Homo sapiens: one gene and its partners. The protein of the gene in region 3 interacts with the protein of the main gene of each other region in a pairwise test. Each region holds a gene or a part of one and is shown on either strand. Other genes may lie near its edges.

The links.
Region 1: the proteins of TMEM109 (region 3) and SLC18A2 interact in binary tests that used the Homo sapiens proteins (3 or more experiments, as listed by UniProt).
Region 2: the proteins of TMEM109 (region 3) and STOM interact in binary tests that used the Homo sapiens proteins (3 or more experiments, as listed by UniProt).
Region 4: the proteins of TMEM109 (region 3) and MGST3 interact in binary tests that used the Homo sapiens proteins (3 or more experiments, as listed by UniProt).

The regions. Positions count from the first base shown.
Region 1 is NC_000010.11:117,236,789-117,244,122, reverse strand, and holds the start of SLC18A2 (synaptic vesicular amine transporter), read right to left. Parts: upstream 3,010-7,334; 5' UTR 2,903-3,009; intron 2,463-2,902; exon of another isoform or gene 2,445-2,462; 5' UTR 2,430-2,444; coding exon 2,309-2,429; intron 2,239-2,308; exon of another isoform or gene 2,126-2,238; intron 153-2,125; coding exon 1-152. UniProt on the Homo sapiens protein: Electrogenic antiporter that exchanges one cationic monoamine with two intravesicular protons across the membrane of secretory and synaptic vesicles.
Region 2 is NC_000009.12:121,360,249-121,367,273, forward strand, and holds part of STOM (stomatin), read right to left. Parts: intron 5,998-7,025; exon of another isoform or gene 5,868-5,997; intron 1-5,867. UniProt on the Homo sapiens protein: Regulates ion channel activity and transmembrane ion transport. Regulates ASIC2 and ASIC3 channel activity.
Region 3 is NC_000011.10:60,917,139-60,923,949, reverse strand, and holds the end of TMEM109 (voltage-gated monoatomic cation channel TMEM109 precursor), read right to left. Parts: intron 6,335-6,811; exon of another isoform or gene 4,797-6,334; intron 4,265-4,796; 5' UTR 4,257-4,264; coding exon 4,020-4,256; intron 3,065-4,019; coding exon 2,962-3,064; intron 2,177-2,961; coding exon 1,785-2,176; 3' UTR 507-1,784; downstream 1-506. UniProt on the Homo sapiens protein: Functions as a voltage-gated monoatomic cation channel permeable to both potassium and calcium. Plays a role in the cellular response to DNA damage.
Region 4 is NC_000001.11:165,648,228-165,655,252, forward strand, and holds part of MGST3 (glutathione S-transferase 3, mitochondrial), read left to right. Parts: intron 1-1,613; coding exon of another isoform or gene 1,614-1,620; coding exon 1,621-1,737; intron 1,738-2,786; coding exon 2,787-2,860; intron 2,861-3,750; coding exon 3,751-3,808; intron 3,809-6,051; coding exon 6,052-6,124; intron 6,125-7,025. UniProt on the Homo sapiens protein: Displays both glutathione S-transferase and glutathione peroxidase activities toward oxyeicosanoids, as part of cellular detoxification as well as synthesis of bioactive metabolites.

The DNA of each region.
Region 1 (7,334 bases), on a different chromosome or scaffold from region 3:
ATTCCCGGTGACCATAGTCGAGTTATCATAATAGGAGAAGATGCTCTGGAAGCTGTCTGAGATGGAGGCAGTGTGCACTGGCCTGGCCGTCTGGATTTCTGTAGCATTCTTCTCATGCTTAATGCTGTACAGATAACTTGGGATGATGGGGACTGGGGATAAGAGCAGAATGGCAAGGTGGTGATCACACTGAAACCCTCTCCAGGAAAAAAGCCAGCAAAAAACTATGGTTGTGTCGGCAGGGAGCAGTGGCTCACACCTGTAATTCCAGGACTTTGGGAAGCTGAGGCAGGTGGATCACCTGAGGTCAGGAGTTCGAGACCAGGCTGGCCAACATGGAGAAACCCTCTCTCTACTAAAAATACAAAAATTAGCTGGGCGTGGTGGCACCCACCTGTAATCCCAGCTCCTTTGGAGGCTGAGAAAGGAGGATCGCTTGAACCTGGGAGGTGGAAGTTGCAGTGAGCAAAGATTGCACCACTGCACTCCAGCCTGGGTGACAGAGTGAGACTCTGTCTCAAACAAACAAAACAACAATAACAACAACAAAACTATGGTTGTGTCAAATGCCAGAAGAGGTCCAGAGGGTGACAGGTCTACCCCAAAACAGGAGCCCTGTGCCATATGTCTATAACGACATTGGAGCAAGTTCACTTTACTTAGCTCACTAGAAAGAACCATGCCCCCAACGGCCCTGAGAACTGTCTCCTCTCAAAAGGCAGCTGCTGTGCTGAACTGACTGGTCCCAGAGATTCTGTCATTTGTGGGTTTCTTCCACATTGTTCCTTCAAGGAATATTTCAGAAAAGCAAAATGTGGCCTGACGTTAAGAGAGTGCTGACCTGGAGTCAACCAGTGCTTCTAAGAAAGAGAGGCTCAAAAGACTTTCAAATGAATGAATCAAGGAAACAGAAAACTACACTTCATTATGTGTCTTAGAAAAAAATTAACCTGCAGGAAGTAATAACTTGGAAATTCTGCAACAGGCCCACTTCATCCTTCTATTATGAGTGGGAATCTGTAATTTTTCCTACAACTTGTAAGATTTAAGAATTCCTAAGGCTTTCACAAGGAAAAAGCAAAACTGAAACAGGCCAGGCACGGTGGCTCAGGCCTGTAATCCCAGCATTTTGGGAGGTCGAGGCGGGTAGATCACCTGAGGTCAGGAGTTCAAGACCAGCCTGGCCAACATGGCAAAATCCTGTCTCTAATAAAAATACAAAAATTAGCCAGCTTTGGTGGGGCATGCCGGTAACCCAGCTACTCGGGAGGCTAATGCAGGAGAATCACTTGAACCCGGGAGGTGGAGGTTGCAGTGAGCCAAGACTGTGCCACTGCCCTCCAGCCTGGGCAACAGAGTGAGACTCCATTTCAAAAAAACAAACAAAAACCAAAATAAAAAGCAACAACAAAAAATACAAATTAAATTGTGAAACATATAATCGAAGCTGTGAGCACATGTGTCCAATGGAGCATTCGAGCCGAAGCAGAACTAATGCCGTTGGTACTGAACAGGGATGAGCTCCACGGCTCTGATAACTCCTCGAGATGAAACCTATCAGATGCTCTGAAAACTGCTGTGAGAAAACCTGCAAATGGAGAGAAAGGAAACAGCTCCCACCACTTACAGTCTAAATGAGTCGTGATTTTTTTTTCATTCATTAAAAACTGGGATTTTTTTTTTTAAGGAAATGCATGCCAAATACTTCTCTGTTAATGGGCCTAATTAAGGGACCTGGATTTCGATTATTTAATTTTTCAAAATTCCACTATAGGAAAAATAATAGAACCAAGATTGTTCAAATTGTTCTTGCAATGGTTCCTGAAATATTTCCATCTCAAGTCATTCACTAATACAGTATATCTAAATGTCTTGTTTTTGGAGTAAGGGATCGAAACTTGCTCTTTTAGGTACTACACCAAATTACTAACCTGCCTTTTCGAGTAGCCCAATAATTATTCTAACACGTAATTTTGAACTTTAGGAATTTCTCTTTTGGAACAGAAATCTTTTTCATCGCAGTGAAAGCAGGCAAGAGGATGCGGGAAATTATCAGGGGGAAACATAAGTTCTGGGTCTTATCGGATGTCACAGTTTTTGACCCGAGCATCAGGAAAGCGAAGCCACACAACGCGGCTCCTCCTAGCCCCGGCGCGGCAGCCTGGAGGGGATGTCTTTTTTGCAAAGCGAGTTCTCCAACTTTCCCGGGCCTTGGCGGAGCTCCGGGACCGCGCAGGGGTAAGTGGAGTGCCGGGGAAGGGGCGCTGGGGCTGGGGTGCCGGGGCAGGGGTGCCCTGTCCGCACGTACCCACGACAGTGAGCAGCATGTTGTCCAGCAGCAGCGCCAGGAACACGATGAACAGGATGAGCTTCCGCGAGCGGCGGCTCTCCTGCAGCCAGCGGACCAGCGCCAGCTCGCTCAGGGCCATGGCTCCGGGGCTCCGCTGCGGGCGCGGTGCGCGGTGAGGACCCAAGGCGGCCGTGGACCCCCCATTCTCCCGTCCCCCAGGCCGCGGAAGGGCGGGTCAGGGAGCCGCGCGCACCGGCATCCGGGGACACCCCCGGGCGCCCCAGCCTCGGCTCACCTGCCTCGAGCGCGTCCCCACGAGAGCCCGCGCTCCCTGGAAAGAGCGCCCGCGAGCGCCGTCGGGGACCCAATCTGGAGACCCAACCTAGAACCCCCAGGACGCTGCCCTGATCCCCGCCGCCCCCAACTGTGCCACCTCCCAAACTGCACGCTCGGCCCCGTGCACCTTGCGCCCTGCGCCCTGCGCCCCGGCTGCCCCGGGGTCCCCGCAGCCCCGCCCGCGTAGCTCTGGGGGCCTCCCTGCCTCCCTGCCTCCCCCGGGCCCGCTCCCCTCCGGCACCGCGCCCTGCGAGCAGGGAACCGGGGCCGTGTTACCTCGGGGTCGCTTGCGATGCCTGCCCGGGTCCTCCGTGCCCGCGCCAACGCCCGCACCGCAGTGGGCTCCGTCAGTCCGGGCGGCTCCGGGTCGCAGTCTCCGCCCCAGCGCCCCGCCGCCGCCGCTCAGTTTACCCCGTCCGGCTCTGACGTCACGGCCGGAGGGAGCGGGGGCGGGGGGCTGGGGCGCCCCGGCCTCCGCCCGCCCGCGCCGTCGCTGCGCAGGAGGGGCTGCCGCCTCCCTGTCCCCGCCTCGGCCGCGGCCGCGCCTCTTCCCCGGACCCAGCGCGTGGCCGAGTGCCTTGGGGACCCAGGCCTGGGGAAGAGGCAGGGGCGCAGAGGGAAAGAGGTCAGAGAGCCTGGACGAAGAGTGAAGGGCCAGGGACCAAGGCGAGGAGGCACGGACCAGGGCTTTCTTGTGGCTCCAAGTGGTGGCTCGAGCTGCTTTGAATAAATCACGTGGCTCTTTGAGCCTCAGTGTCCCTGAAATGGGCCGTGAGGACGGGAATGATGGCCGCGGGGTGAGATCGCCAGGGGTGACAGGTGCTGGGAGCCAGGGACAGGCTTCCCTTTCCTGAAGAAGCCACCCTTTGCACCCACCATCCCCTCCCCTCTCCGACCTCTGCAGCCCGATGCGGGGTGCCACTCGGAGGAGCCTTTGAGCCTTGGGCATCCTCAAGCTGGTGACTTGGAAACGGGGGGGGGAAGGGGACACTTTTCAGTGTCGCCCTATGGTGGGAGTTGGGGAGGTGAGGGTCCCAGGTCTCAGAAAGTGGGAGCAGTGGGTTTGGGCCTCTGGGGCCACCTGAGCAGGGGACCCTGGAGGCTAGGTGAGTACACCTGGCCTCAGAGAAAGGGCTAGGGGGCGGGCTGTGGGCGGGGCAGCAGGCCTAGGCCCTGTGTCCTGTACTCTCTCCCCACCATGCTGTGCCTGGGCGTCTGGGTGAGAGGTGGTTCCTAGAGCCAGGGGCCTGCGTGTGGCTGGTGCAGAGCTGTCATCCTCACTGCTAAGGGCTAAGAGCCTGCCTTTGATTTCCAGGTCCCTTTTATAAGCAAAGGAGAAACAAACAGATGCCCTCTGACATCGCTGGAGCTCTGCAGGCCCTCCGAGGGGACCGTGGGAGCAAGAGCTGTTTTCTTGAAAAGCTACCTAGAATAAATGTTACCCTGTCACAGTCTCTTAGCAGAAGAGTGGGCTTGTTTTATTAATGTTAGCTTGTTGACAGCAGGAGGCCACTGAGAACAGCAGTGTGATGTGTGGCTGCCCCCGCTCTCTCCACCTCCCTACTCCCTTGCAGAGACCCCCTGTGCTTCTCATTGCTACCCCATGTGTGAGAAGAGATGGTTGAATAGGTAAGTAGGTCAGGAACATGGGTCTCCAGGATGTCACAGGATGTGCACAACTTAAACATTAAACAGGGAGGACAGAAGGAAAACCACTTAGGAGGAGGAAGCAGATGGCAGAGAGCCGTTTAAGATGGCAGGAGGGTATCACTCAGGGAGTGCCCCAGAGTGCTTGCTCTGGAGTTTCAGAACCCAAGGATGCAGACTCTACCCCAGGGACCACATGGGGACAGAGAGGCATTATGGTAAAGGGTGCCTGCCAGGATGCCCAGGTCCCAGTCTGCTACTTCCTTGACTGGTGGCCTTGGGCTGGTTATGTATCCTCTTTGTGGCTTAGTTTCGCCATCTCTGGAATGGGGATACTCACTGGACCTACTGCAGCGTGGTTGTGAGAATTCCAGGGGAATGCATAGGCAGCTCTTAGCACAGTGCCTGGCACAAAGTGAGAGCTCCGTAAGTGCCGGCCCCTCATTCATGCGCTGAATATGTGTTGAGCTCTTACTACGTGCCAGGCACTATGGTTAATGCTGGGGAGACAGTAAAGCCTAGACAAATCCCTGCTGACATTCTGACCTGATAGCAGCATCATAGCAGTGAACACTGGAAGCCACACCAAACTCCAGCCCAGCCAGCTGGATGTAGATGGCTCCAGGGACAATGCCAGCCCGGCGTTCCCGCCTCCGGATCACTGTCACCACCCCTAGAGCACTATGGCCTATAACAGACTTTTTGTTGAAACCCCCTAAAAAATGTTTAACAATATGTTTGCCTTACACATTTTCAAGTTGGCATCTAAAATGAGTTTTTTAATCATATATTTAAATAGGGTATATTGTATTTATTGACCTTTATGTATAAAATTATTATCTCTCTCTTTTAAATATACCCAAAGGAATTTGTATAAGAATACAAAACTGCCATGTTATACTTAAGAATATAAACAAGTATCCCTTTAACAGTCAAAATATTTACATTGTGTTCTTTACCCCTTTTAAGTATGTTTCCATTCCGTTTTCCAACAGAATTGTATCCTACCCTAATGCTTTTATTGTTTAAATTCTGTATTCATCACCTATCTATTATGTGAACCACAATAAATATGTGAATATGCATTAGCTTTTTAAAATTTTCTACACGTGGACATAAAGATGGCAACAACAGACCCTGGTGGGGACTACTAAAGGGGAAAGGGAGGGAGGGGGGAAAAGGTTGAAAAACTAACTCTTGGGTACTATGCTCACTACCAGGGGGACAGGATCAGTCATACCCCACACCTCAACATCACTCAATATACCAGTGTAACAACCCTGCACATGTACCCCCTGAATCCAAAACAAAAGTTGAAAGTATAAAAAAAAGTTTAGGCACAGTGACTCATGCCTGTAATCCCAGCATTTTGGTAGGCTGAGGTGGGAGGATCTCTTGAGGCCAGGAGTTTGAGACCAGCCTGGGCAAGATAGTGAGACCCTCTACAAAAAAGTTTAAAATTTAGTTGAGCATCGTGGTACACACGTGGGGTCCCAGTTACTTGGAAGGCTGGGGTGGGAGGATCACTTGAGCCCAGGAAGTCAAGGCTGCAGTGAGCCATGATCACACCACTGCACTCTAGCCTGGGCAACAGAGCAAGACCCTGCCTCAAAAATTAATTAATGATTAATTAATAAGGCTCTAAAATTCTCTTTAGGATTATGTGATTATAACAATGATTAATGGTATTTAAGTGATCAAGACATCATACACAAATATGTATTCTGATAAATAATTATTAAACATAAAAAGGAAAATTGTCTTAAAAGTGCATTACTTAAGGGATGGATAGAGAGGGGATTTTTGGAGTCTTGCTGAAAGAGACACCAAAAGTGTCTCTGTTTGGTGCCGAGGATGTTTTTGTGCCTCAGGACACTGTATACAGGAAGGGGGTCAGACTCAGGTTAGATAGGAAGGGAGCCTTTCTTTGCCCAGGGGAAGATGGGAGACTGTGGAGAGGGGAGGCCATGCAGGAGCATGTGCATGTCCCCACCCAGGTCCATATCAGCCAGATAAGCTTTAGAATGGAAGACATGAAAATTGAGGGTCTCAAACGGCTCGGGACATCTTCATATACACTCAGTGTCCTGCCATTCCAGCCTGAAGAGCCTCCACGGCCACTTCTCAAACATCTTAGCCCTCGCCTTCCCCCTCTGGCCACAGTGGTTCCTCTCAGCATTTCTCTGCCCCAGGGCCTTTGCACATTTTCTTTCCGCTTCCTCTTCTTTTCTAGTTATTTCCTCATGGAGGAAAGCATGCTGTCCAGCATCAGACAGGCCCCTCCCTTATAAACCCTCATGAAGGTGTTACTTCTCCTTTTTACTTCACTTCCTCCTTTGAGTAACCCTCAAAGAAACATTACTTCCTCTAGAGTTACTTCCTCTCTAGAGGAAAGTAACTCTCCCTCCTCTCCCTCCACTCACTTGCACCTTTTTTAGACACTGGGGACTGAGGAGGTACAAAGGTGGTACCCGAGTTTACTTTTTCATTACATTTCAATAATTGAGAATGATAATTTCTAAATTCTATTTAGGAAGTAGCCACCTGGGACATAGCAGTTATTTGAAATAGACATTACTGGAGATGCACTAACAGTTTAAGCTGTAGACAGCATCCTAGTGGGGTCTCTTACAAGTTACATGACCTTGGTCATTCTACTTGACCTTTACATACCTGTTTCTTATCTGTCTCTCCAGCAGGATAACAGTCCCTCCCTCCAGCATAGTTATAGAGAGAAAGTGGGATGGGCCTTGCCTAGTGCCTGACATTAGGTGTTCTCTGTTACTGGAAAATGGAAACTGCTGGATACAGGGAAGGTGTAGGTGTTTCCTGGGGGAAAAATCCTCAGGTGCTCCCCCACCAGAGAACTTGGAAACAAGGACAGTACCCTCACCTCCTGGGCATTAAGCTGTGACATTCAAATAATGGGTCAGAGCAGAAACGAACAAAACCATCCCAAGAGACTCAGTGGTTCCTAGCCTAGCCCAACCTGGCGTACTAGTTATCACAGACAGGGAAGGAAGGGAGAGTAGAGTAGCCAGGCAGGAGCCAGCGAGCTGGC
Region 2 (7,025 bases), on a different chromosome or scaffold from region 3:
AAATTATCTTATGGCACTTATATCTTGTCTAATCTTTTATTTTTTATTTATTTTTAATTGACCTTCCAATGTAGGATTTTAATCTTTTATTATTTTTTAATCTAATATTTTAATTTCTTGTGCATTTATATCCCTTATTACACTGAGATTCCCTGAGAACGAGGAGTAACTATGTTTGAATTTCACTTCTGATACTTCTTAGTTGCATGATCTTTACCTCTTTGAACCTTAGTTTCCTTACCGGTGGAAAGTAAAGATTATTAGGCTGGCCTTGTAGAATACAGATAAAATGATCAGTAAATGTAGATGATAGTTTTCTGTAATCCTTCTATTTTACTTAAGTGTTTGTATCTTCATGAAGAAAAATGGGAAAATAGCATTTACCCTTTTTGATCAAAAGCCTCTTAAACAATTTAATTTGCCATTTGCTTCATACCTGCCCCCAGTCTGGCTAGGCTGGGACATTCAAAGACTCTCAAAAAGTTCATTTATGATCTACATGAGGACAAGCCAAAAAGTTCAGCCCAGTTTTTTTTGTGTCAGTTCCCATGTCACATTGTGTTTTTGAGAACCCCAGATGTGTATATGGGATTGCAAATCACCAGGAACAAGGAATTAAGTACACATTTTGAAAACTGGATTTGGTCTTTCACATATCAAATGCTTGGCTAGAAATAATCAGTGTATACACTGGGAAAATGGCACTTTCATATTTTTCTAATGACTTTAAAATGAAAGTATCCTACCTTCACCTCTCAAAATTCTTCCCCACCTGGTTACCCCTCAAAAAGGTACACAGTATCTAAGTTGGGAATGCATCACTAGAGTTCTGAGACTGAAATCTGATGTTTTTACAGAGGAAGCCCTCTTAATTCCAGCTGTGTCTATTTATAGCATGTTGTGCTATAAATGCATAGCTCAGAGGTGAGGCTTAAACTCTAGCAGGCTTATAAATGAACCCTTAGTCATCTACCACTTCTGGGAATAAGAGAAAAGAAATTCTCACTCACTAAAATCTCAGGAAATTCATTTCCTTCAAGTTTCCCATGTATTACTTTAGGACTGAATCCTTCCTACCAGTTTTATGGGGAAAGGGACAAATAGTGATATTTTGGTTAATACACTTGTGGACTTTTTTTTTTTTTTTTTTTTTTTTTTTAGATGTAATCTCACTCTGTCGCCCAGGCTGGAGTGCAGTGGCGAGATCTCGGCTCACTGCAAGCTCTGCCCCCTGGGTTCACGCCATTCTCTTGCCTCAGCCTCCCCAGTAGCTGGGACTACAGGTGCCCACCACCATGCCTGGCTAATTTTTTGTATTTTTAGTAGAGACGGAGTTTCACCGTGTTAGCCAGGATGGTCTTGATCTCCTGACCTCGTGATCCTCCGGCCTCGGCCTCCCAAAGTGCTGGGATTACAGGCGTGAGCCAATGCACCCGGCCACTTGTGGGTATTTTGCTGGTTGAGAATGTTCCTAAAAATTAGGGATCCTATGATACTTGGTTGTAAATACTACTTTGCCATAGTTTAGAGCAATGGTCCCCAACCTTTTTGGCACCAGGGACCAGTTTCGTGGAAGACAATTTTTCCACAGGAAAGGGTTGGGGAACATGGTTTTGGGATGAAACTGTTCCACCACAGATCATCAGACATTAGGTTCTCATAAGGAATACACAACCTAGATCCCTCATATGTGCAGTTCACAATAGGGTTTGTGCTCTTATGAGAATCTAATGTTGCTGATCTGATCCGTCTGTGGCCTGGGAGTTGGGGACTCCTGGTTTAGAGTATTTTTTTTTCTTTTATTACCAAAATGGCAGTAGAATAAACTTTTAACTAATCAAAGAAGGGTCTGAATATGGACATAAGCCTGTACATTTGAATTTTTGTATTGAACATTCAAGTTGGGCTTACCTCCAGGAAACTCACATACATTTTCTAAAATTGCTTTTTTACTTTAAAAGCAAAAGTTACTATAAAAATTAGAAATGATAGCTCAACAAACAGAAACATTATCTATACTTTATCTCTGGATGTTTTTTGCCTTGATATACGTCTTTTAAACCTTTTCTAGCCTGTATTTTTTCAATAATGAAAGAATGGTATACACAGTGATTTAAAATCTTCTCCCTCCCATCCATGTTATGAACATTTTTTCATATCAGCACATATTCTTTATCATTATTAAAGATTAATTAATTAATTCCATTTTATATGATGAAATCTGTTGTGTCCAAATTTCTCACTTAGAAACTGCTGCATTGAATATATATTTAGCAGTGTTTCTGTACCTGCTTATTTCCTGTGTAAGTTAATTTTTCTGAAAAGATGAAATTATACAACTCTTAAAATTCTCTCATTCTGAAGGTATCTTTTGTTACTACTCCTAATAACTACCATTTATGAATTCCTATGACATGTTAGCCACATGTAGCTCCTCCTTACATACATGAGTATTTATAATGTTTACAAAAATCTGTGAAGTAGGTGTTAAAATATGCCTCCTGAAGTTCTAAAGTAATAAGGCTAAAGACCTTGTAGGAAGAAACAAAAGAAAACCAAGCAAACCATGAAACAAATGAAATTTGTTGTGTAGTAATTTTTGTTGGGTAAGTTTCTGGAAAGGCAGTTAAACATTCTTTCCAAGATGACAACACAGGCTGATTAGTCCAGAGGGCTGTAGTTGTCCCCGTTCCCCATCAGCTGATTTACTTTCAGATCTATTAACCTTAGCACTACTGGAAATCATGTGGAGTAATAAATCCACTCATCACTGAGATTTTATTATTGTAAAGTTCAACAGATAACTGGATTTCCTCTGCTGAGAATCTGACTGTGAGTCATAAGCATTATCCTACACAATAAGAAAGGATGGGCTAAGGAATTACTGAAATACCTAAACTGCCACTTTTTAACGGACACTTTTTTCCTTCTGCCTTCACAGAGTGCAAATAAAACACTTCATGTTGTAAATTGATGAGAGCAGTCCTGCCTGGATGGGGCAAGACAGAAAGGCTGGAAGTTTAGTCTCAAAAACACATGCTATTCAGTTGCAGCAGCACTTTTTAGGGGTAACAGTAGGCCAAATTGAAAAGTCTTGGCAATTTTTGAACTTTCTTCTTAAAAACATATGTATTCAGGATTAAGTGTTACTTTTGGCCACTATGATTCTTCATCAGTGATTCTTTGTCAGGATTGGCAAACTTTTCCTGTAAAGAACCAGGAACTAAATATTTTGGGCTTTGCAGTCTGTTGCAACTACTCAACTCTACTTTTGCAGTGCAAAAGAAGCCATAGATAGTACCTACATAAACAGCACAGCTGTTCCAATAAAACTTATGGACATAAATCTGAATTTCACATAATTTTCATGTGTAATGAAAAAGTATTCTTTTGCCTTTTTAAAATCATTTAAAAATATAAGAGCTATTTCATAACTTGTGGGACATACAGAAACAGAGTCAGCTAGATTTGGACAATGGGCTGTTACACGCTGTTCCTGTTTTATGTCAGCCAACTATTTATTTGAGGAGGAAGACTTGCATAAATTAAATAATGCATTTGATCTTTCTTCCAGCTATTCAAATAAGGGTACATTTCCCAGCTTCTCAGTTTCTCCCTTTTGCTTATTTTGAAGCAAGGCCTTTATAAGGCCTGATAAACAAAAACTCCTGGTGAAAATAAGCAAAAGGGCAGGTAGAGTAAGTGAATATAAATTCCTCTTCAATTAATCAAATTTTTACTATAACTAAGTTTTTCAAATGACTGGAATTTTAGGAGAAAAAGACAAAGAAGGGAAGGACATAGCAGAAGCGAAGGAAAATAAGAGAAATAGAAGGAGTAAAAATGGGAGAAACAAAAATGAAGACAGAATCCTACAAAGAGAGATAGATTAAAAAAGCTAGAAGTGAGAAAGAGGCAGAGTTTACCACATGGTAGCGTCTCGATAAACGTATGTTAAAAAATGATAGTGTTTCATTAGAGATCAAAACTTGCAATTCATTTAAGGCAGAAGATTTCAAAGCAAACAAGCACACACACATTATAGCCTGCCTTTCAAATTAGTATTTTAATTAGGCACGGCTTAGTTGTTCGAATGCCCTTATCCTTAAATCTCTAGAGAAGAAATTATTCTTGGGGCTAGAGTAGCTACAGGCCAGATGGTATCAAGTTAAAAACCATGAGTGAAGACTGTAACTTTTCCTCCCTATTAAAATCCATCTATAGTTATAAATGCTAGACCAAAAGAACTGATACTGATGAAGCACTATGTGGTTTGAATTACAAAGCTTAAAATGTGTTTACTGTGAAATACTAAGGAAAACAAATGGACTAATACTTCTAAGAAAGATTTGCAATAACAGTTATTCTTTGCTTAGCTCAAAAAGAATAAGGAAAGTAAATAAGCATAAATGTCTTATTTCCTAAATATTTTAAGGATTTTCTGTAGTTTTCCTGCATTCAAATGTTTCAGGCCATACAAGAGGAAAAAAATAGGTGAGAGCAACAGCAATAATTTTAAATTTGGACCTCTCAGTCTAAAATAATGCTGCAATAGCCCTTTACCCTTTTAAAACAACATTTATCACACTTGTAATTATTCTATTCAGTTGTGTGTCTTCATGAGATTTTGGTTTTATGAAAACAGTATAGCATAATAGGTTCACAGATGGCTCTGCCACTTACTAGCTGTGTGATCTTGAGAAAGTACCTTATTATTCAACTGTGCCTCAGTCTACCCATTGAAACATAGGGCTAATAAGAGTACCTCCTCAGGTTAGTGTGATGAGTAAATAAGCTAATATGGAAGACACTTAGTGTATATAACAGGTACTCAAAAAACATTTGTTAAATAGTTGCTGGATGAGTTGAGTGTGTTGTTTTTTTGGGGAAAAGAAAAAAAAAAGACTGCCTCTCACATAAGACAAACTGAAACAGCAGACAGGATCCTGGGATACAGTACAGAACCATCTCCTGCCCAAGCAGTTGTCAACTGCTTTCCTCAAGTATTTTCTTTTTAAAAAAAAAATCAGACCTTTTCCAACCATGACGTTAGAGAATTCAGGAAAGCAGAAGAATGGGCTGAACATGGCCCATGTCTGGAAGCACCAAAACATTTATGTTCAGGAAAATTGGAGAGAAAAACAATTTCATAATGGGTATTAAGTTAATTAAATTTCATCTAGGCCTGAAATACATGAAAACAGAACAAAAACCCTCCCACTTTTTAGGTTTTTTTTTTTTTTCCCAGCTCTTTTACTTGGACATCTTAAAATTATTCACAATTAAGTTTTTCTCATATAAGTCTTTGGAGGGTAACATCGTTTTCATTTAAAAATGGGAAATGGAAGCAGAAGAAAACTAGATGATAAAGTTCTCAGTTCTTCACTGTGATTAACAGCTAAGCAGTGGCTAAAAGCTTGCATTTTTGGTGTTAGATTCCAAATCTACCACTAAATTTTCTTATCAGTAAAATGGGGAAAAGAACAGTATTTATTTCACTCAGTTGTTGTGGAGATAAAACGAGAAAATATGTAAAGGGCTTGACACTTAGGAAGTATTCAACAAGCAGTAGCCATTATTATTACCACAACTTTAAGATCACTATTGATAAGTTTAGAGGAAGAAACTTTTTATGAAGTGAATTACCTTTTGGGATCTGGGCACTATGGAGAAAATATCAACTAACAATCTGCTTGGGGACTCTATCTCTGGAGGAGAAACAGACTACACTTGGGGCAGTAAGTCAGAGTTCTAAATGTTCTTGGACCATCCTTCATACAAATCTCTTAAGTGATGGTAGGGTGATCTCAACCTAAATCTTTTAATTATAAATTCCACTCTCATTTCACTATATTCTACTACCTTACCATAGTGCTCACTTTAACTGGACCACAAGTTCAGTATAGTTTTCATTGTCTGAGACTTTAGGACTTTATTGGTTGTATCTTCAAGGATAATCTTCTGAAATGTGAGGCCAAATGCTTGGAGTTCAAGTTTCTTTAGTAGTCCCAGCAGACAGAGAAAGATTAAAAAAGAATGTAGCAACAAGTGTGTGTCAATAGAAAATTATTTTAATTGAAATGATCTATTTTAATTATCAACAAGTGTGTGTCAATAGAAAATTATCTATTGACACACACTTCCTTCTTTCTACTAACCATGACCTCTAAACTTCTCTTTCCATGCTTTAATAAATAAAAGGAGATTTCTTATTAAGGACAATATATTATCTTGGCAATTATAATCCTTTTATTGATAATATAAACCCAGACAAATAGTCTATCTGTAATAATATATAATAAACATAATGGCCATGCCCTAAAATCAACAGCTTAAGTTATAACAAACTTAATAAAATAAATGGTAAACAGAAAAACTGCTCCACCAACATAAGGCTAAGGCAAACACTTAACAATGTTATTTACTCCAGGGGGATTTTTATCTCCCTGCCTGCTTCCTTTTTCTTTGAACAAATGTTTTTGTATACCTACTATGTACTTGATACTGGGCTACTACAGTGAAGAAGGACACAATCTCTATTTTCAAAAGTGTGGTCTAAAGGCCAGGCTTGGTAGCTCATGCCTGTTGTCCCAGCACTCTGGGAGGGTAAAGTGGGATCGCTTGAGTCCAGGAGTTCGAGACCAGCCTGGGCAACATAGTGAGACCCTGAGTTAAAAAAAAAAAAAAAATTAGCTGGGTGTGGTGGTGCATACCTGTAGTCCCAGCTACTCGAGGGGCTGAGGTGGGAGGATCACTTGAGGCTACAGTGAGCTATGACTGCACCATTGCACTCCAGCCTGGGCAACAGAGCAAGACCCGGTCTCAAAAAGAAAAAGTGTAGTTTAATTATGGGAGGGGAGGGGACAGATGAGTCAAACTGATAAATATGTTATGTAATAAACATTATGATAGAGATATGCACAGGATACCAGGCAGACGCAGGGAAAGGGTATTCACTTTTTTTGTAGTTACAATAGTTTTCAGGAAATTGCTTTTCCATGCCTTCTTAAAAAAACTGATTTTGA
Region 3 (6,811 bases):
AAGGCCAGCCTCAAGGGTCCTGACCCAGTGTTGCCTACCAGGCAGTTTGGGGAGAGGCCCAGAGCAGGGGCCCCAGCTGCACACTCTCATGCCCTGGGCAGCTTACAAAGAAAAAATTATGTCTGAGGCCCTCCGCAAAATTGGTCCAGCCTGTGGGCCGACTGGAAACCTTGGCACAGGAAAGTCCTCAGGTGGGTGGTGAAGGGGAGGGCAGGCAAGTCTTCTCCAGGCTGCCCACCCACCTCAGCACACTGCAGGGAAGGGGTGACCCCTCTGCCCAGCAAGCACACGCATTTCCAGCAGTGCCAGTCGTTCCTACGTTTTGTAATGGGGGCATGCTTTCCTAATTCCTTGTGCTCCTGGAGGGAAGGGTACCTGGTACCAGCCTGCCTTTTCAGCTCTCCCCTCTGCCAGCTTCACACTGCCCCCACAGGGAGAAATTGGGAGGCGGAGCTGCACTACAGAAATGGGTTTAGCAGTAGAGGAGACATGGAAGCAATCCAGACTTGGAGTAAATACATTTTATTCAGAACAAGATAATAAAATAGCGTGCACTTTATTTAAAACCAACCAAGCACTGATAAAAAATATATATCACTGCAGCTGTGATTCCACATCAAACCTGAACAGTAAGAATTGGGCATTTATTCTTCACATCATGTGCCAAGCCTGGCAGAGAAGGACATCCACCTCCACTAGAGCCTCAAAGGAAAAGTGGCCCCTAACCACCAAGACAGGGTACCCTGGTGGAGAGGGGCAGCTGGCAGCTCACCCTGCTCTCTGCAGACCACGTGAAGGGAAAGGAGCTGCCTGTGTTCCTCCCGGGCTGCCGGGGTGGGCACTGGTCAGCAACTCCTTCTCGGTTTCAGGTTGTGGAGCGATGGGGAGAGAAGTGCATGCAGTTGTGCAGACAAGGAGGCGGGTCCTCCCTCCTCTTTCAGGGTCTCTGAAACCCCCACAGGGCATATAATGCCCAGCAAGGTCCCACTTGCAGGCACATGCCTACAAAGCAGCAGCCATCTTTTGCTTTGGCTGATGGGGAATCAAGATTCTGAGAGTGACTGCTCTTTTCTTGACACAAAGCAGCCACAGAACACTTTCCTACATACAGTATGGCAGCAGGCAAGCAGAAGGCCCTGCTGGCTCGGATTAAGGCACTTGAAAGAGACACAAGGTACATCCTCCTCCCCTGCAGCCCCCACAGGCCTCAGGGGACCCTGTTTCCCCACCCTTTATCCTCAGGTCCCCTTACCCCTGCCCCTCCCTACTGCTGGGCAATGAGGAGGACAGGAGCGTGCCTTAAAGGACCATGGTTTGGTGGGAGTACAGGGTAGGAGGATGAGGAAAACAAGAAGGGAGCTGGAGATTTGGCCAAGGAGCAACTTCAGAAGGACAGGAGAGCACGAGCATTAGGAGGAAGCCAAGGCAGCAGCAGAGGGAAGCCAGTTAAGTCATGAGAGACCAACGGCAGTGATGTTTGCTGGCGCAGATGCAGAAGCCAGAGGGAGGCCCCTCCAACCTTCCCTGGTGAGGCAGGCTGGGAGCAGAGAAAGGGTTAAGAGAGCCAACCCCAGACAGAGAACCTCAGAAGACAGGGCCGCAAGGACAGGCAGGGGGAATGGTCTTTCTCTGTTTCTCTTGGCTAGTGGGGCTGCGGCAAGGATCAATGTTCTGAAGGTTCAGAGACAGGGCAAGAAAAGGGCAGGGGGCTGGCAGGAGGGCTGCATGGCCCCGAAGCAGCTCAGCTCTTTGGTATGACACTGGCGGTGTGTGGGGCATCCGGCTCACTCCTCCTCCACACTGCGGGCCCCCTTGGCCGCTCGCCTCTGGCGCCAGCGCAGCTCCTCCACCTGGCGTTCCAGCCCTCGCACCTTGGCCTCGAGTTGGGCCCCAGAGGCTCGGGAGCCAGTGAGCCGGCTCAGCAGGGCGTAGAGGATCAGCAAGGCCAGGAGTAGCAGGGCCCGGGTGGAAGGGTCAGGCACCGACCTCATCAGGGCCACGAAGCCGGCCAGGAAGATGACAAGCTTCAGGCCCCACAGGATCCGCCCCAGCAAGGCCAAGACCAAGCCGAGGAGCAGAGACAGCAGCCAGTAGACGACCAGGGCCCCTGCTCCCCACAGCAGGAAGGTCTGGACCTGGCCAGGGCTGAGCTTCAGGCCCTGGGCGAGGTAATCACCTGGAAGCCAAGAGAGTCACAGAGTCAGCCAACCTGGAGAAGTGGTGAGGGGAGAGCGGGGCAAGAGCTAAAAGGGTGGGAGGTGCTAGGCACATTGCAAAGGAATAAGCCGTTCTCGCAGACTCAGAGTGATATGGGTTGGAATCTCAGCTCTGTTTCTTGCTGGCTGTGAGGCCTGGAGTAGATTACTTGCTTCTGTTGAGCTGCAGTTTCATTTACTAAACGGGAACAATTCTACTGCCTCCCTGTACTGTGGCTGGCAATTAAATGAGATACTACAGCTCAGCACGATGCCTGATAGGAAGTGAACAACTGGCACGTGGTGGCGGAAGTTCTTTTTTAGGGGGTCTGGGTGGGACAGGGTTTTGCTCCATCGCCGAGGCTGGAGTGCAGTGACGTGATCCCGGCTCACTGCAACCTCTACCTCCTGGGCTCAAGCGATCCTCCCACCTCAGCTCCCAAGTAGCTGGGACAACAGACACACGCCACCATGCTTGGCTAATTTTTTATAGAGACGAGGTCTCATTATATTGCCCAGGCTGGTCTCAAACTTCTGGCCTCAAGTGACCCTCCTGCCTTGACCTCCCAAAGTGCTGGGATTACAGGCGGGAGCCACCACACCTGGCCATGGTAGTTCTTGGCTTGCTCTTTGGCCATGTCTCTGCAGAATCCTGGGAAGGGTTAAGCAGCTTGGGGAAAAGGCTAGACCCTGACAAAGATGAACTCCCACAAGTAGGAAAGTACAGGCAAAGCTCTGGCTGACTACCCAGCACTCGAACACTCACCAGCTAGTCCCAAGGCATTCAGCAGCTGTGCGGCGATCCCAGACAGAGCAAAGAAGGCCACAGAAATGGCTGATGAGATGGCCCACAACACTTGGGACGAAGACTGTGGAAAGAGCACGGAGCGAGATGAGTTCATAATGAACAACGGTCCTCGCCTTCACGCCTGATCACCACTGTCCAGGCAAGAACTGCAGGAATGTCTCAGACCTGTTTCTCACCCAGTGGTGACAGGCCTGGGTCAGAGGGTAGGGGCCTTGGGCCTGGCTGAGGGGTCCCTTCCACATCCACCTTCTAGTCTACAGGGATGGCCAACAGGCTGTCTCTCCTTCCTGAACTGGAAACTAGGGCATCTGGGACATAATTTAACTGCTTTGCTGGGATACTTTGGAGGGAGTAGTAGGTGTACTTGTGTGTGAATGACGGAGACAATCAAATACTTTTAGTAGTCACCCTATAAAACTGGAGGCCTGCTAGCTGTCCAGGGAGTCATGAAGGTGCGTGGAGAACATCTGTAAAGGGATAGGATGTTCCAGTGAAAAAGGAGTCTATCAGCTATACTATATTATGGATTTAATAAATGATTGTCTCAGCCCTTCAGTCCAGCCTATCAAAAGTATGTGATACCATGCTTGGGATGCCACCAGGTAAAAAAAGATAACCCTGCCTTAGGCTCCCAATAAGCTCAACCCACTTCTGCAGGTGAAGGAATGGATTCAGGACTTGATATTTTGCCATTTCGAGATTCTAGGTCAGATTTAGACCAAAGTGAGACTCTACAGTCACCCAGTAACATGGGCTTATAAAGATGGCTCATTTCCCAGCCTTTCTGGCAAGGAAAGGGCAGGAGCCAGGAAAGGATAGGGGTGGAGCTAAAAGGCCCTAGGACAGCAATCAAATAACGAGGAATTCAAAGACAAGTGCTGTGTGGCTTCTTTTTGTGGAATTTGGGGCTCTCTGCACCAGAGAGGATGTGGAACTAAGATGAGGTGGCCATTACCAACCTTTCTTCTTTTATTTTTCCTTAATGTGTGTAGTCACACAGGGACTACCTTCCTTACCTCTGACACCAGGTGCATGGTCTCTGGCCCAATCCAGGCATCCAGTGTCCCTCGCACAGATCGACCTATCTGGGTCAAGACATCAACTGGGGCTTCTCTCTTCTGTTGGCCTGGTGGTGCAAAGTCTCGACGGGACTGGGCCAATGCTGAGTGGAGGAGGATAAGGGCCACTAGGACCATCAGAATGGCTTTGAACACATGCTTTCCCCATGGTGAACTGATGCTGGAGGCTGCCATGACTGGGTCTGCCAGGAGAGAAGCACAGTGAGCTGAGTGCCATGGTAGACACACTCACCCTCTCAGCTCTGATTATCCCAACATCCTTCTCCACCCCTACCCCAAGCAAGCACCAAACTAACCCTGGAAAGAAAGTGCTGTTAGCTGGGAGAGGAAGGACTGGGACTTCCAACTGAAGCTGGGCACAACCATCTGACTCACAGGTTCCTCTTTCACATTCTTTACCACTTGCATATTAATTAACCAGCAAGTATTATTCAACACTTTAGAGTTGGCGAGAAGATCTCTCTAAGGTTTGTGCCAGTTCTAAAAATCTGAAGGCCTGTCCCTGTATCTTAGGTGCTATAGGCATAAAAGTATTATAAGACTCTATAAAGGCTCTGTCCCAAGGAGCTTATAATCTACTTAAGATACAGCTGGTATAAAAAACAACTTAAAAATAGCACACAAGTAGGATTACTGCCATATAATGGTATAAAGAAAAGTGCTCAGTTATGTGCTCAAACAAGAATAACTGCACATATGTCATCTTCTCTGCAGGACCATCATGTGAGGTGGCTTTTATCCTCCTCGCCCCTACTGGTACAGACGAGAAGAAACTGTGACTCAGAAGTTAAGCATTTTCCCATGGTCACTGGGCTACACAGAAAGGCCAGGATTTGAACCCAAGCTTCTGCTTCCACCCATCTTCATTAGGAGTCAAGTTATACTGTGGGTCTCAACCATGGCTGCTCACTGGAATCACCTGGAAGCTTCCCAAGTACTGATGTCTGTGTCCCCAGCCCAGAGGTTCTGATATCATTGTCTGGGTGTGGCCTAGCCTTGGATCTGCAAAAGCTCCCTAGGCAGTTCCACTGCATGAAGTTGAGAACCACTGATACAGAGTGACCTCACCTCCCCACCCCCAATGGAGGTGCTATGGTTTGAAGAGCAAAACTCATGTTGAAATTTAACTGTTCTTGCACCTCCTGCAGAGCCTGGGAGCTCCCAGTCCAGCCAAGGATGTTGGATCTCATGGTCCTAAGTACTTCTTTGACACCCCATTCCCCTCAGTAAAATAGTTTGACCCCTTCTCCACCAAAAAAAAAAAAAAAAGAAAGAAATTTAATTGCCATGATGATGGTATTAAAAGGTGGGACCTTTAAGAGGTGATTAGGTTATGAGGGTTCAGCCCTCATGAATGGATTAATGCCGTTATCTTGGGAGTGGATTAGTTATCCCAGGAATGCAGCTCCTGATAAAAAGGATGACTTTGGCCTGATTTCCTGTCTCTGTCTCATGTGCTGGGTTCTGCCTTCTGCCATAGGATGACCCTTGCCAGATGCCAGCGCCATGCCCTTAGACTTCCCAGCCTCTGGAACTGTGACCCTAATGAATTTCTGTTCATTATAAACTACGCAGGCAGTGGCATTCTGTTATAGGAAGCAGAAAATGGACGAGGACAGTGAGCAAGGGTATAATGAACAACCTTTAAAGAAATACTATTAATAAAAAGCTAACATTCAGCTAGGTCTTGCCATGCACCACCGCGCTCATTTAACTGTCACAACAGCCCATCGGGTAGGTGTTGCTATTATCCCCCATTTTACTGAAGTAATTGAGGCAGGTTAAGTATTAACTGGGGAAATCAGCATTTGAATGTAGGTACTTCTGACATTGGACCCCTCATACACAACAACTCTGCTGTATTGTCTCCAACTAAGTCTCAGAAGTGATTTAGAAAGTCATACAGGCCAGGCACAGTGGCTCATTCCTGTAATCCCAACACTTTGGGAGGCTGAGGTGGGAGGATTGCTTGAGCCCAGGAGTTTGGGAGCAGCCTGGGCAACATAGGAGACCCTGTCTCTACAAAATAAATATAAATAAATAAATTAGTCAGGTGTGGTGGTGCGTGCCTGTACTCCCAGCTATTTGGGAGGCTGAGGGGGGAGGATCACTTGAGCCCAGGAGGTCACGGCTGCAGTGAGCTATGATCATGCCACTGTATCCCATCCTGGGCAAGAGAGCAAGACGCTTAAAAAAAAAAGTCACACAACAGATTATTCATGAGTTAAAATAAACTTGGCATCTACCAATCATCTCAGTGAATTACTGGTGAAAATTACCTAACAACTTTGTGCTTTGTGCTCTGGTCTTGTAACACAATGCCACAGACAAGTTAAGACCCAACAAGTGCCAACTCATTGAAGCAGGTAAGGATCAGCCAAGAAAAAGTACACAAGTTCAACTTCTACTTGCCACTGTGCTTGAGAAATGTCAGACAGCGCCAGCAAATTCCCTGTTCCCCTCCAGGTTCAGAAATGAACCTGTAGCTCCAGGAGTTTTCATGATTCAGACCTGATGATCAGAGGCTAAGCCATGCCCCTGAGGTAGGAGCAGTCAGGTTTTTGAACTTTTTGCAGTTACACAGGCACTCAGGGAGTTGACAATAAATCCAGAGCCATGAGGGATGGAGAAGGAAGAGAATGATGTCCTAGTCTTGCTTAGGGGGAAGGAGGAGAGTCTAGGAAAGGGTTCTAAAAATACTACATTTAGGGTACTTTTTGGTCCAGAAA
Region 4 (7,025 bases), on a different chromosome or scaffold from region 3:
CGCTGCAGTGTGTGCCCCCCAGCCCCCGGAGGGGCAGCGGGCATGCCTCAGAGAGCAGCTCAGAGTGAAGACGGTAGAAGGGGAAAACTGATGAGAATTATTGTGAATCATGGTGGGGAGGAGGGGTTTTAAGAAGTTAGGCCTGTTAGGCTGGGTGCGGTGGCTCACACCTGTAATCCCAGCACTTTGGGAGGCCGAGGTGGGTGGATCATCTGAGCTCAGGAGTTCAAGAATAGCCTGGCCAACATGGCAAAACCTCGTTTCTACTAAAAATACAAAAATTAGCTGGGTGTGGTGGTGCGCATCTGTAATCCCAGCTACTTGGGAGGCTGAGGCAGGAGAATCACTTGAACCCGGGAGATGGAGGTTGCAGTGAGCCGAGATCGTGCCACTGCACTCCAGCCCGGGCGACAAGAGTGAAACTCCATCTCAAAAAAAAAAAAGCAGTTAGGCCTATTTTGCTGTGCTAAGAGAAACTTACTTTTAATGAACTGAGCTGCATGCCTATCCCAAATTCTGTTTTAAGGAAGATGCTCTGACCACAGTGTCAGTTTGGCTCTAAAGTTTCAAGGGATACTGAAAGGGAATATTGGAACCAAATGAATCTGAATGGGAATCCCAGGTCTGTCACTGTCTGTTTTAGACCTTGGAAACATTACTTAACCTCTTTTGAAAATAAGGATTTACCATCTTGTTGGTTGGTTTGTTAGGATGATTAGATACATTCCAGATCAGGGTAACTCTCCTAGGTTAAAAGCAGGGACTGAAGCCAGGCAATTACCAGGGATGGAAATTTTAAAGCTGACGGCAGAACACACACCAGAGCTGCTGGCTCGTGGAAGCCTTTGAAGTGATGATTTGATGGGCAATCTGAGTTCCTCAGGAGCTGCCCAAAGCCTCATAGGCTCAGGAGCCATGCTCTGCTTTCAGAGTACTCAACCTGGGCCTTCCCCTACCTGTGTGAGATGTCTGCTGCTGCACCCGCACGTGCCCCAGGATCGAAGGGAGGCCTCAGAGTCCTGCCCTCACAGTGTCCCCCATGTCTGAAGGCAAAAAACTTGGAATCACTGTGCATATACTATTTTGGATGCTCGCTTTCTTGCTTTCTCACTTTCTTGCTTTCTCTCTCTCTCTCTCTCCCTCTCCTCCCTCCCCACTCCCTCTCTCTCCCTCTCCATCCCTCTCCCCACCATGTCCTGCTCCTCTCACTCCCTCCCTCCCCCTCCCTATGTAATGTATACTTTAGCATTTTACCATGTTAAATATTTTTTCAATAATGTGATTTTTGTTGGCTATATTATTCTACAGCAACGACTACTGCAGTGGTGTAGATAAATCTCATAATGTTGATCAGAATCTCCCAGGCACAAAAGAGAAAAAAAGATACATGACTGTATACTTTTCTGTGTATAGACTGCATAGTTGAGTAATTTTTAAATTATTTTATATGGTACTGTCTTTGATGACTTCTCAGAAACATCAGATTGATTCATACCTTTTTTTGGTCTCTATTTACTCATTTGCCAGTAATAAAGCATCTTGCTCCCTAAGGCTTCACACCATGAAATAGCCACAGTGCTGGGGGCCGTCCCAACGTGTTCTTTCTTCCACAGACGCAAGATGGCTGTCCTCTCTAAGGAATATGGTTTTGTGCTTCTAACTGGTGCTGCCAGCTTTATAATGGTGGCCCACCTAGCCATCAATGTTTCCAAGGCCCGCAAGAAGTACAAAGTGGAGGTAAGTGGGAACACAAGCTGGTGCCCTTGTAGGCTTGTCTGGGGGCCACAGGCTTAGCCAAGAACTTATTTTCAGCCATGGAGGGAGAGGCAAGGAGCTAGTTGTGAGAAGTGGCAGTTTCAGGACTGTGTTAGCGATTCTGCTTCTTCATGGTAGGAAAGAGGCAAGAAATACAGGGCCCTGCTAGGGAGTAGTTTCCATCTTGTTTGACTTTGTCTCTTCGGTAGAAAGACCAGGAATGCTGGGATTCCAATAGTACACTTCTGCTTGGAGCTATTTGCTAGGAAGAGAGTTACTGTATTTTCCACAGAGGGTTAAATAGCAATATTGTTTCATGGTGTGCCACTTTAAAAATGATGTCTTATGGTGATTTTCCTGTTTTCCAAGTAGAAAAGAGGTATGTGGTGTTGAGATTAGCCTGGACTTAGACATAGGAAGGTGGTCTATTAAACACTTCCTTTAGTTTTAGGTGATCTAGAAGGGATAATTACCAAAGTTGTCCCTGGTGAGTGGTTTTAAATGTCTGTTTCTGTTTAGCAACTTAATAATTAAACTCCCTTACTAGAGCTTCTTTTAAGTTTTTATATTTAGTTTCTTCTTTTTTTTCCCTTCCAGTGGACACTTCCATTAAGATTCTCACACACTCAATTTCTGTTCTTCTATTAAGGGAAATCTTAAAAGGATGTGGTATTTGATGACTCTTAGGAAGGCTCTATTTCCCTACAGTATCTTTGTAATGCATCTGAAATCCACCATTGATGCTTAACGTCAATGAAAAGCACGGAGTTTGGCGCAAAGCTGCCTCTTTCCCTTGTGCAACTACAGCGCAGACATACATTCTTATTCCTGGATATTTAATAGAAACATTGACTCTGCTTCTGAGAATTGAGACCCTTGTCACCATAAATATTTAAGCAGAAATTGAATGGTCATCTATCAAGGGTGTGAAAGAAGATACTTTGGAATATATTGTTTTTAAGGTTCATTTTAACTTTCAACACTGAATGCTCCTCTTGACCATCTGATCAGTATGTGCTTTGTTGTGACAGTATCCTATCATGTACAGCACGGACCCTGAAAATGGGCACATCTTCAACTGCATTCAGCGAGCCCACCAGAACACGTGAGTGTCGGCCCTGCCGGGCACCAAAGACATCTGCAGAGTGGGTGTTTTCTGTCTAACACCTCAGCCCTTAGTGCGCTGTATTTGCTGAGTCATAGTGATGGTGACAATCATGGGCACCTCATTAAAAGTATTCAAAAATTATGTATGTGAACACATTGACTATTAAGCAAACTTAAGAGTGGTTGGAATGGTGGGATTTCGGGATATTCTTTTCAAAAAATGTCTTCATGGTTGCATTACCTACTACAGTTTTGCAGCATGACCCATCTAAACCGATGTTGACTCTCCCAGGCCTAGGGAGTGAAGAGGTTTTGAATGCTGTAAGGAAACCCACTCTGACTCACCAGGACCTTCCACTTCCATTTGTTAGATGTGAGGTCCTTTTACTCAGCATGTTCCAAGTGACCTCTAATCCCATGCAGAGCAAAGGAGGGTGGATGATAGTGACCAGGTCTTCTCCCTGCGGTGAATGTTTATTTTTACCCCCAAGCTTCTAACTTGGCAAGGAAGATGTAAAGATTCATAGTGCTGGCTGGGTGAGGTGGGCTCACACCTGTAATCCCAGCACTTTGGGAGGCCGAGGTGGGTGGATCACTTGAGGTCAGGAGTTGGAGACAAGCTTGGTCAACATGGCAAAACCCCATCTCTACAAAACTTAGCCAGGCATGGTGGCACGCACCTGTAATCCCAGCTACTCAGGAAGCTGAGGCATGAGAATTACTTGAACCCGGGAGGCGGAGGTTGCAGTGAGCTGAGATCATGCCACTGCATTCCAGCCTGGGTGACAGAGACACTCCGTCTCAAAAAAAAAAAAAAAAAAATTCATAATTCTACACAGGCATACTTAAAAAGGGCACTTTTTAAAAGTTTCTTTCTGTCAATTCCAGGTTGGAAGTGTATCCTCCCTTCTTATTTTTTCTAGCTGTTGGAGGTGTTTACCACCCGGTAAGTTTTCCAGGAGGTGTTCATCTATTTGGATAGTAGTTCACTGAGCTATTATCAGGGACAGAAGAAGGAAATAAACATTTAATGAATATCTTCAGTGTCTAGGCACTGCATATTTAAAAGGATTTTATTCAATTATTTCTTACAGAGTTCTTTAAAGGAGATGGGATTTTCCTCATATTTTACAGATAAGGAAAAGCCTCTCATATACTATTTAAACTTCACAAGGTCAAATAGCTACAGAGTAGAAGGATTAGAATTTGAACTCAGGTCTGTCTGGTTCTAAGTTTCATGTCTATAAGAGTTCATTTGTTATAGTAATTCATTCACACAACAAACTTTCACTCACCACCTGGGGTAAAGCAGTGATCAAAGCAGACAAAGACCCCTGGTTTCATAGAGCTTGCCTTTTTGTTGTGGGGTGTGGGGTGGTCACAGAGAAGAAGCAACCTAAGTAAATTACATCATGTGTTAGGAGGTGGTGAGTGCAGAGAAGAAAACAAAGTGGGGAAGGTGGAAAGGGGATGTGGAGTGGGATAATTTTGAATAGGGTGGTCAGGGAGGGGGGCTTTGCTGAGATGATAGTTAAGCAAGTATAAAAGGAGGTGAGGGAGCAGGTGCTGCACGAGTTTCCCCAACCTCCAGCCAGAAGACAAGCAAGGCCTGAGGCAGGCACCTGTCTGGTTTGTTTGGTGAGCAGTGAGAAGCCAATGGAGCCAGGAGAGGGGCAGCAACAGAGGGCAGAGGGGTGATGAGGCAGGTCACTGGGGACTTGCAGGCCTCTGCAGTATAGATAGCCCTGTGGGATGGAGATTTAGTCTGCACTTAAACATATCTAAATAAAGCAAGTTTATCAGCCTCTAATTAATTGCCATTTGGGTCTTGTCTTAGACAGAAGTGTTCCCCTTTTCTGAGGACAGATTATCTCCTGAAACCAAGTTCTGACCAGAGTGGCCCTTCAGACTTCTGGTTCTAAGCCTTTCCTAACCATCTGGTTCATCCTGAATGCCTTGTACTTTTGTTAAAAAGCTGCCAGAATGGCATATCTACTGCTTATGACCTTGAAGGCCTGCATTTTTTTCAAAGAAACATCTACTGCTCTTGTATCTCTTAGAAAATGTATCTTTCTGGTGCCTCTAAAGATCCCCATTCCTAGCAAGTGACTAGACTAGCTGATCTGAATAGCTCAGGTCTCTAGATTAGTCCTCATTTGGTGTCCCCACTCCATCCCCATTCCTATCACACATCCCTGGATCCCATTCCTTATGGGTAGTTCTGAAAAATAAGAGCTAGTTTGGGGACAAGCACCTAACAATTGTTCCTAGGTTGCCAGTCATTAGGCAACATTATAGTAAAGAAGGGCCTGGCAGAGACTAGAGCTGCTATATCGTGACTTGAGGGACTGGTGTTATTTTCATTTGTTTCACCCTCCTGTTGACATTTAATGTTACCCAAAATCAACTCAAACAAACAAAAACCCTGATGCAGTAACCTTATCCCTAACAGTAGCACTGCTGAGTGGGAAAGACACTGGGGAAGGCGGCCTTCTCACATGCTGTCTTCTGTGTTCTCTCCTTGCTTATTTTAACCAAGGAAGTCACCCCAGCATGACAGCCAAAGGGATGGATTTTTCATCTAAGTTTTTATTCTCTCTTCTCAAGGACATTGGGAACAGGGAGACTTTTCCCTCGAAGACCATGTATTCTGGGAGAAGCGCTCCCCTTCTTTCTAGTGGAGCTACACCCCCAGTGTAGCCTGCAGAACCACCTGAGCCCAGCCCTGCCAGTGACTGACTTCACATAGAACAGCAGCTGAGTCTTCAGTCAATCTCATGCTCAGAGGCCCATTTGAGAAAACGGCATTTCCCCTAGTCCTGACTTTGGGGCAGTTCTCTTTTCTGGCCTGCCCTGAGACCGGCTGGCCCACATGTCCTTCTCTTGAGCTCTGACACAAGTTCCCCAAGATGCCCAGGGCAAGTGGGGGGATTCCTTCTATCCCACCTGTCTAGGAGAAGGCCAATACTCATCTCCCAGGTCCACAAGCCAAGCCATTCATAGAAGAATCACAGATATTTTATTTTCCCGCTGAAACTAACTTAATTCTACCTAATTTGCGTGGGGAGTAGTTGGCCAAATCATCAAATTGTTAACTTTTTGCTAACATATTGTGTAATCAACCCTAGGTGTTAAAAAAGGTTTGCTTGTTTCTTTCATGCAAATACTAATGTAGCCCTTTTTTCTTAGCGTATAGCTTCTGGCCTGGGCTTGGCCTGGATTGTTGGACGAGTTCTTTATGCTTATGGCTATTACACGGGAGGTTAGTATATATTGACATTTGCCAAGGAAACAACTTTAAAATTTTAAATCCTATGCTGGCCAGGCACAGTGGCTTACACCTGTAATCCCAGCACTTTGGGAGGCGAAGGCAGGCAGATTGCTTGAGCTCAGGAGTTGGATACCAGCCTGGGCAACATGGTGAAACCCTGTCTCTACAAAAAATACAAAAATTAGCCGGATGTGGTGGTGCACACCTGTAGTCCCAGCTACTTGGGAGGCTGAGGCGGGAGGATTGCTTCAGCCCAGAAGTTTCAGGCTGCTGTGAACCATGATTACACTACTACACTCCAGCCTGGGAGACAGAGCAAGATCCTATCTCAAAAAAAAATAAAATCTTATGCTACTATATTTTTTTTCTTGGGAATTTGAGAAAAGGGGAAGTCACCTGATATTTAGGTGAAAGGTCTGTTTTCTTTTTATTAATCTTTCAATTGTAACGAAACTTATTTTTATTGAGCATTTTCTATGTGCCAACCACTACTCTAAGAACTTTGCATATGTTATTTAACCTTACAACAATTCTGTAATACAGATATTATTGCATTTTACAAATTAGGAAACTGGGACTCAGCATGATTAAAGCTGTAGGTCACAGAGCTACTAAGCGTAAACTAGTAAACTAGGAATCAAACCCATGCAGTCCGACTCCAGAGCCTCACCATTACTATACCTCCTATATCTGAGTAAGGAGGAGGAAAAGCCATTTTTAGCTGTACTTCTTTGAAACAGAGGGAACTCCTTCCAAAGGTCCTAGAGCAAAGTTGCTGTAATTATTATCCCATAATTTTCTAAGATCCAAGCAATACTACTGTGGCACGTTACTTGGCATGTGGTATCTGACTTGCCAACAGCTTCAGGCTAAAGAGTTAGTTAACCTCCTA